Linked DNA regions of Homo sapiens. The protein of the gene in region 1 purifies or fractionates together with the protein of each later gene. This does not show direct contact. Each region holds a gene or a part of one and is shown in the gene's direction. Other genes may lie near its edges.

Evidence for each region.
Region 2: the proteins of TECPR1 (region 1) and TRAPPC8 purify together in Homo sapiens (affinity purification with mass spectrometry; one large-scale study listed by BioGRID and IntAct). This does not show direct contact.

What each region holds. Positions count from the first base shown.
Region 1 is NC_000007.14:98,245,594-98,249,413, reverse strand, and holds part of TECPR1 (tectonin beta-propeller repeat-containing protein 1), read left to right. Parts: intron 1-3,248; 5' UTR 3,249-3,267; coding exon 3,268-3,492; intron 3,493-3,820. UniProt on the Homo sapiens protein: Tethering factor involved in autophagy.
Region 2 is NC_000018.10:31,828,451-31,831,986, reverse strand, and holds the end of TRAPPC8 (trafficking protein particle complex subunit 8), read left to right. Parts: intron 1-997; coding exon 998-1,232; 3' UTR 1,233-2,790; downstream 2,791-3,536. UniProt on the Homo sapiens protein: Plays a role in endoplasmic reticulum to Golgi apparatus trafficking at a very early stage. Maintains together with TBC1D14 the cycling pool of ATG9 required for initiation of autophagy. Involved in collagen secretion.

The sequences.
Region 1 (3,820 bases):
CCTTGGTGTCCTGGGATGGAGGGGGTCAGCTGCTCTGGGAGGGGCTCTTACTCCCCGGGCTTCCTCCATTCTGCTGGGCAGTCTCCCTCCTATTCTTTTCCCCCACTTCCTGTTATGGGAGTTTCCCAGAGCTGAGCTTTTGTTCTGCTTCCTGTCTTCCTGTTCCTCACCCTCTCACTCACTTCCTTCTCAACCTGCAATCTGTCTTCTTGGTGTTTGTAAGATATACCTTGTCCCAGCCAGGGCCAGGGGCTCCTGCCTGTAATCGTAGCACTTTGGGACGGATCACCTGAGGCCAGGAGTTCGAGACCAGCCTGGCCAAAGTGGCAAAACCCCATCTCTACTAAAAATACAAAAATGGGCCAGATGTGGTGGTGCAGGTCTGTAATCCCAGCTACTTGGGAGGCTGAGGCAGGAGAATCACTTGAACCCAGAAGGTGGAAGTTTCAGTGAGCTGTGATTATGCCACTGCACTCCAGCCTGGGAGTAGAGGAAGACTCTGTCAAAAAAAAAAAAAAAAGATGCACCTTGTCCCCAAAGAGCCTAGTTTTTTGTTTTGTTTTTTTTTGAGACGGAGTCGCACTCTGTCATCCAGGCTGGAGTGCAGTGGTGCAATCTCGGCTCTCTGCAACCTCCACCTCCTGGTTCCAGCGATTCTCCTGCCTCAGTCTCCTGAGTAACTGAGATTACAGGCACGCGCCACTGTGCCTGGCTAATTTTCACCTTTTTTTTTCAGTAAAGATGGAGTCTCACCATGCTGGCCAGGCTGGTCTCAAACTCCTGGCATCAGGTGATCCATCCGCCTTGGCCTCCCAAAGTGCTGGGTTTACAGGTGTGAGCCACCACACCTGGCTTTTTTTTTTTTTTTTTTTTTTTTTTTGCCGGTGGCAGCTGCTCCTCTTTTCAGACATGCTTCTATCTCGTGCCATCGTCACAGTCACCCGGCCGTCTGGAGCACCCGCATGGCTCTGGTATGCTGCGGGAGCACTGGGCCCAGCCTCCAGGCACCTAAATAAACTCTGCCTGTCTCCTTTTGCTCCGGTTTTTAAGTCAGACTGGCCATGTCTTCATCTGTAGGCTCTTTCCTCTCTTCAGGCCCCGGGCCAGTGTCCTGGGTTGGATCTAGGAGCCGCCCTGTCGGGCAGAGCTTCTCAGGTGATGGCCCTGGTGGCTTCATCCAGTAGCTCTGTGTTTGGCTGCCTTGTGTGTGGCCATGTGGCCCTGCCACGGTGGAAAGACTGTTCCTATCAGGAGCCAGGACTCCAGGAAGGACACCCCTGGGTGCAACAGCACTATGGGCCCTGGAGGTGGGGCCAGGGGTGGTCAGTGGCAGAGCTTAGCAATAGCCTTGGCTATGCCTACAAAGCACAGAGAAAGAAGAGAGAAAGGGCTGGGTGCAGTGGCTCACGTCTATAATCCCAGCGCTTCGGGAGGCCAAGGTGGGAGGATCGCTTGAGGCCAGGAGTTCAAGACCAGCCTGGGCAACATAGCGAGACCCCATCTCTACAAAAAAAATTTTAAAAATTAGCCAGGTACGGTGGCACATGCCTGTAGTCCCAGCCACTCAGGAGGCTGAGGCAGGAGGATGGCTTGAGTTCAGGAGTTCAAGGCTGCAGTGAGCTATGATTGCACCACTGTACTCCAGTCTGGACAACAGAGCAAGATACTCTCTTAAAAAATAAAAAAGAAAAGAAAAGAAAAAGAAAGGAGTAGAGAATGGCAGAAGAAGAGAGCCGGGGGAAGAGGAGGAAGGAGTCACTGAGGGCGCATGAAGAAAAGACCCCTACGTCCCTGAATTCACATGGTCACGTTGGCTCTCAACGTGCCCTCATTATGCCCAGATAGAGGCCAACATGGCGGGGAGACCTGCCCACTCTGGGGAAGGACCCCTGGGGAAGTAGTGGGGTAGTTATATCTTTCGAGATTCAACTAAACCTGTAAGCTTTCATTGATTCTTTTGAAAACAAAGATCTGGCCAGGCATGGTGGCTCAAGGCTGTAATCCTAGCAGTTTGGGAGGCCGAGATGGGAGGATTGCTTGAGACTAGGAGTTTGAGACCAGCTTGGGCAACATAGTGAGACTCTGTCTCTACAAAAAAAAAATTTTTAATTAGCTGGGTATGGTGGTGCATGTCTGTTGTTGTCCCAGGAGGCTGAGGTAGGAGGATCACTTGAGCCCAGGAGTTCGAGGCCGCAACGAGTTGTAATCAAACCACTGCACTCCAGCCTGGGTGACCGAGCAAGACCCTGTCTCTACTTTTTAAATTCTTTTTTTTTGAGACAGGGTCTCCCTCTGTCACCTAGGCTGCAGTGCAGTGGCACTGTGTCTGCTCACTGCAACCTCCATCTCCCGGGTTCAAGCCATTATCCTGCCTCAGCCACCTGAGTAGCTGCGACTACAGGCACACACTACTGTGCCTGGCTAATTTTTGTATTTTTAGTAGAGATGAGGTTTCACCATGTTGACCAGGCTGGTCTTGAACTCCTGGCCTCAAGTGATCTATTTTTAAATTCTTTCAAAAACAAAAAAGAGACCGGGCGTGGTGGCTCATGCCTCTAATCCCAACACTTCGGGAGGCAGAGGCAGGTGGATCACCTGAGGTCAGGAGTTCGAGACCAGCCTGTCCAACATGGTGAAATCATGTCTCTACTAAAAATACAAAAATTAGCCAGGCGTGGTGGCGTGCACCTGTAGTCCCAACTACTGGGGAGGCTGAGGCAGGAGAAAACCTGGGAGGTGGAGGTTGCAGTGAGCCAAGATCCCAAGATCGTGCCATTGCACTCCAGCCTGGGCAACAGAGCGAGACTCCGTCTCAAAAAAATAAACAAAAAAAGAAAGAATAAGCAGTTGGCCACGCGCGGTGGCTCACGCCTGTAATCCCAGCACTTTGGGAGGCTGAGGCAGGCAGATCACAAGGTCAGGAGATCGATACCAGCCTGGCCAATGTGGCGAAACCCCGTCTCTACTAAAAATACAAAAACTAGCTGGGTATGGTGGCAGGTGCCTATAATCCCAGCTACTTGGGAGGCTGAGGCAGGAGAATTGCTTGAACCCTGGAGGTGGAGGTTGCAGTGAGCCAAGATTGCGCCACTGCACTCCAGCCTGGGTGACAGAGTGAGACTCCATCTAAAAAAAAAAAAAAAGAGAAAAAGAATAAATAGTCACAGTAGAAGTCTCCCAGGTTTCACATGACTCTGATGTCCCCTGGGCTGGGAGCCTGAACGCTGGCCCTCGTCCTCCTGCCGCAGGTTACCTCCAGCCGCTGCCATGCCCAACTCAGTGCTGTGGGCGGTGGACCTCTTCGGGAGAGTGTACACGCTGTCCACAGCAGGCCAGTACTGGGAAATGTGCAAGGACTCCCAGCTGGAGTTCAAGCGCGTCAGCGCCACCACGCAGTGCTGCTGGGGCATTGCCTGTGACAACCAGGTCTACGTGTATGTGTGTGCCAGCGATGTCCCCATCCGCCGCCGAGAGGAGGCCTATGAGAATCAGGTAGTGACCCTCATGGTTGGAGTTGCCGAGCGGGTCAGTTCGCTGGGTTATTGGTTAAAATGATGAACCACAGAAGGGAAATAGAGGCCCCAGATTCCCCACCAGTTCCTGCCTTCATTTCCTTCCTTGTACTTAAAATCTGTGTTGCTGCCAGGCGTGGTGACTCACGCCTGTAATCCCAGCACTTTGGAAGGCTGTGGCGGGCAGATCGCTTGAGCTCAGGAGTTTGAGACCAGCCTAGGCATCATGGTGAATCTCTGCCTCTACAAAAAAAATACAAGAATTAGCAGGGTGTGGTGGTGTGCACCTTTAGTCCCAGCTACTTAGG
Region 2 (3,536 bases), on another chromosome or scaffold:
AAGCTTGTCCTGGTTTTTTGTTTGGTAATATAGAAGGCTTACAGATGTGTTACAGAGGCTTTAAATATTAAAGATTTTTTTTTCTTGATTATAAAATAGTACTTAACAACAAAAAAAAATCCAGATCCACAGTCCCACATCAGATACTCCTAGAGCCAAATGCTTTTGGGAATTCAGAAATTTTTGAATTTTTGGAAAAATACTATAAAGCGTATACTTAATATTTTTGTATAACACCCCAAACAGGATCTGGGACAGTTCTCTGAAATCCAAACACACACCTATATATGTGATTTTGTGTATCATAAATTTATTAATACTTTATTGGGTACTGGGTTTTCCATTTTTCAATATTATAAACAGTTTCAATATTAAAAGCATTCATGTACAGACACTTATATATGGCTAACTAAGGAGTTAAAAGTTTAGGTTTGAAATCAAGTTCCAACATATACTAACTCTTAGGGCATTAAATGAAATAATCCACTTTTAGCATTGTGCCTAGAGAATAGAAACTATTAAATAATAAATGTTAGCTGTTATAGTAATGATGTTGCTATTATTAATAAACAGTTGGCTTCATAAAATAATTTTTAGAAATAGAATTGTTAGATGAAAGGGATGTTTGTTTTCTTCTTGAGATGGAGTCTTGCTCTCTCATGGGCTGGAGTGCAGTGGTGCAATCTCAGCTCACTGCAACCTCCGCCTCCCAGGTTCAAGTGACTCTCCTGCCTCAGCCTCCTGAGTAGCTGGGATTACAGGCGTGCACCACCATACCTGGCTAATTTTGTATTTTTAGTAGAGACGGGGCTTCATTATGTTGGTAGGCTGGTCTTGAACTCCTGATCTCAGGTGATCCACCTGCCTCAGCCTCCCAAAGTGCTGGGATTACAGGCGTGAGCCACCGCGCCCAGCTGAAAGGGATATGTTAATGTGACTTTGGGAAAAAAATTAAAAAGAAAAAAATCCTGCAACTTACATTTTCCTCCTCCCTTAGTCCAGAAGCACTGGAAATCCATGGATCATTCACATGGCTTGGACAAACACAGTATAAACTTCAACTTAAAAGCCAGGAGATTCACAGTCTGCAGCTGAAAGCATGCTTTGTTCATACAGGTGTTTATAACCTTGGAACTCCTAGGGTATTTGCCAAGTTATCGGACCAAGTTACAGTGTTTGAAACAAGTCAGCAGAATTCCATGCCTGCCCTGATCATCATCAGTAATGTGTGACAACTTGGAAATTTGTACTGAAATCCACAATAATCAGTTTTTGCTGGATGGGTTTTACAGCAGTATTTGATATACCTAACTTGTTATGGAGGTTGATTGATATCTGATCCCTGCAAAATACTTTGACTTGTCATTTTGTTGATGATGCAAAGCACGTTGGACTGAGAATACTTAACATTCTTTTTCTGTATTTCTTTAAACCCTGAGAATAATTTACATGCTCATAATACAGGATATCAGCATATTTGTGCACCTTATTAAGCCCCATCTTAAGAAAACACAAAGTCTAAGTCTGCTGTTACAACTTGTCAATGGTATACGAATATTAGGAGATGATTCTGAGAAAGGAAAGGCCTTGTTGGCAGTACTCCTGTTAAGCCATTAGTCTCTAAATTCCAGCTTTACTGTGAAGTTCTATAGAGTGTTAAATACAAATTTTCCTGTCTTGCTTCACACAGTTCCTTAAAATCAGTTTTGAACTTTGGTCATAGAGTCTTCATATTTCAGTATTTGGTGGTCCCTATGACTTATACATAACTTTGTAAAAAGAAAAAAAAATTTTTTCTGATGCTTTGAATATAGTTTTGAAAGGAGTTTTGACTTTTTTCCCCTCATTCATCTCAGTATAGAGTGCGCTATTTCACAATACGATTTTTGTCATTAAAATTACCATATTCTTTATTATATAACGTTAACTATTGAGTTGATCTGTTTAAAATATAAATCTCAAGTTAATTAAAAATAAGCTTTTCAAAAATGTATTATATTTATAACAAATATACTGTAAATAGAATAAAGACATGCTATTCACTGTATAGCGTATTAGTATCTGTTGATTAGAAAGTCTGGTTTCAAAATATTTTTTTATTCAGAGAATGGGCATTTGGACATAAGAAATTTCAATTCAGCCCTGCTGCAGATAGAGAAATGGGAGCAAGGTTGTTTCAATGAATATCTCTTGTCATTGGAGAAGGAGGGAAGACAGGGTGTAGGAGTGGGTGGCAGGGAGTACAAGAGCCAGGGTCAGTCAAGTCTGGAGCAGATGGGGTCCTTGTGCCATTGACAGCTACCATGGTTTGTTCCAGTCTCAATCTCGGCACTAATCGGAGCAGACTGCACCAAAGTGGGGAGAGATCAAAAGACCCCGTTTTCAGACTGAAGATTCCAAACCTGTACTTGGAACAACTCTTCTTGAGAGATGGGTGGCTAGTCTGTGTGCCTCTCTGCAACTGCTGCTTATGCTTCTGGATCTTAAGTGGGTCTCTGGCTTTTCAGCTCCTTCCACTCTGTGTCTTAGCAGGTGTGGGACAAGTTGGAGAGGAAGGTCACATTCTAAGGACACTCATTTCCTTCTTGAGAGTTTAGGGCCATGGGCTTATAAAAAGTCTGAGGAGGAAAGACAAGAATGAGGAGGCATAATCACAGTGGTATCTCATATTTAAACCACTCAGCTGAATATTAAATTGAACCGATTGTTAAACAGACACTAATAAAAAAATTAAACTATATAAACCTACAACTGAATATATTAAAAATAAAGGTAATAAAGCACTCAAAATTACTTCCTGAATATTACTCAGGATTATTTATGTCTATTTTATCTGTATCCTGGAAATACTACACAATGGTGTGTTTCTGCTCATCTCTTGCCAACCCTACATTCAGTGACTTGCTGGTAGCTTGAAATCAATGATAGTAGAATGTTTACCTCAGGAAAACCAGCAAATGCTACACACCAGGGCTTGATTTATTTATTTTTGTTGTCTACGCTAGACCTAAGAAAGTGATGGAGAAAATGTTAGTGATGCATATTAAAAGTGTTGCATATTTGTAGCTGTAACGAGTAGCACAAATAGTTTAGGAAAATATTCCTGCAGTATCTGAAAAGTTTTACCCAGTTCAACAAAGAAGTTGCCCGTATCACTGATGAACTAGTGAAGATCCAACATGTGTTTTCTCACTTCCTCTTCCTCGTTAATGTAAACAGAAATATCAACCAGCATTCATACTAAAATTATTCTCGCTTATCAATTGCAACATAGGTTGGTTTTCTATACAAGAGCTCAGCAAAAATCAAAGAAACTACTCTGAGTGGCCGGGCGCGGTGGCTCACGCCTGTAATTCCAGCACTTTGGGAGGCCGAGGCGGGTGGATCACGAGGTCAGGAGATCGAGACCATCCTGGGTAACACGGTGAAACCCTGTCTCTACTAAAAATGCAAAAAATTAGCCGGACGCGGTGGCGGGCACCTGTAGTCCCAGCTACTCGGGGAGGCTGAGGCAGGAGAATGGCGTGAACCCGGGA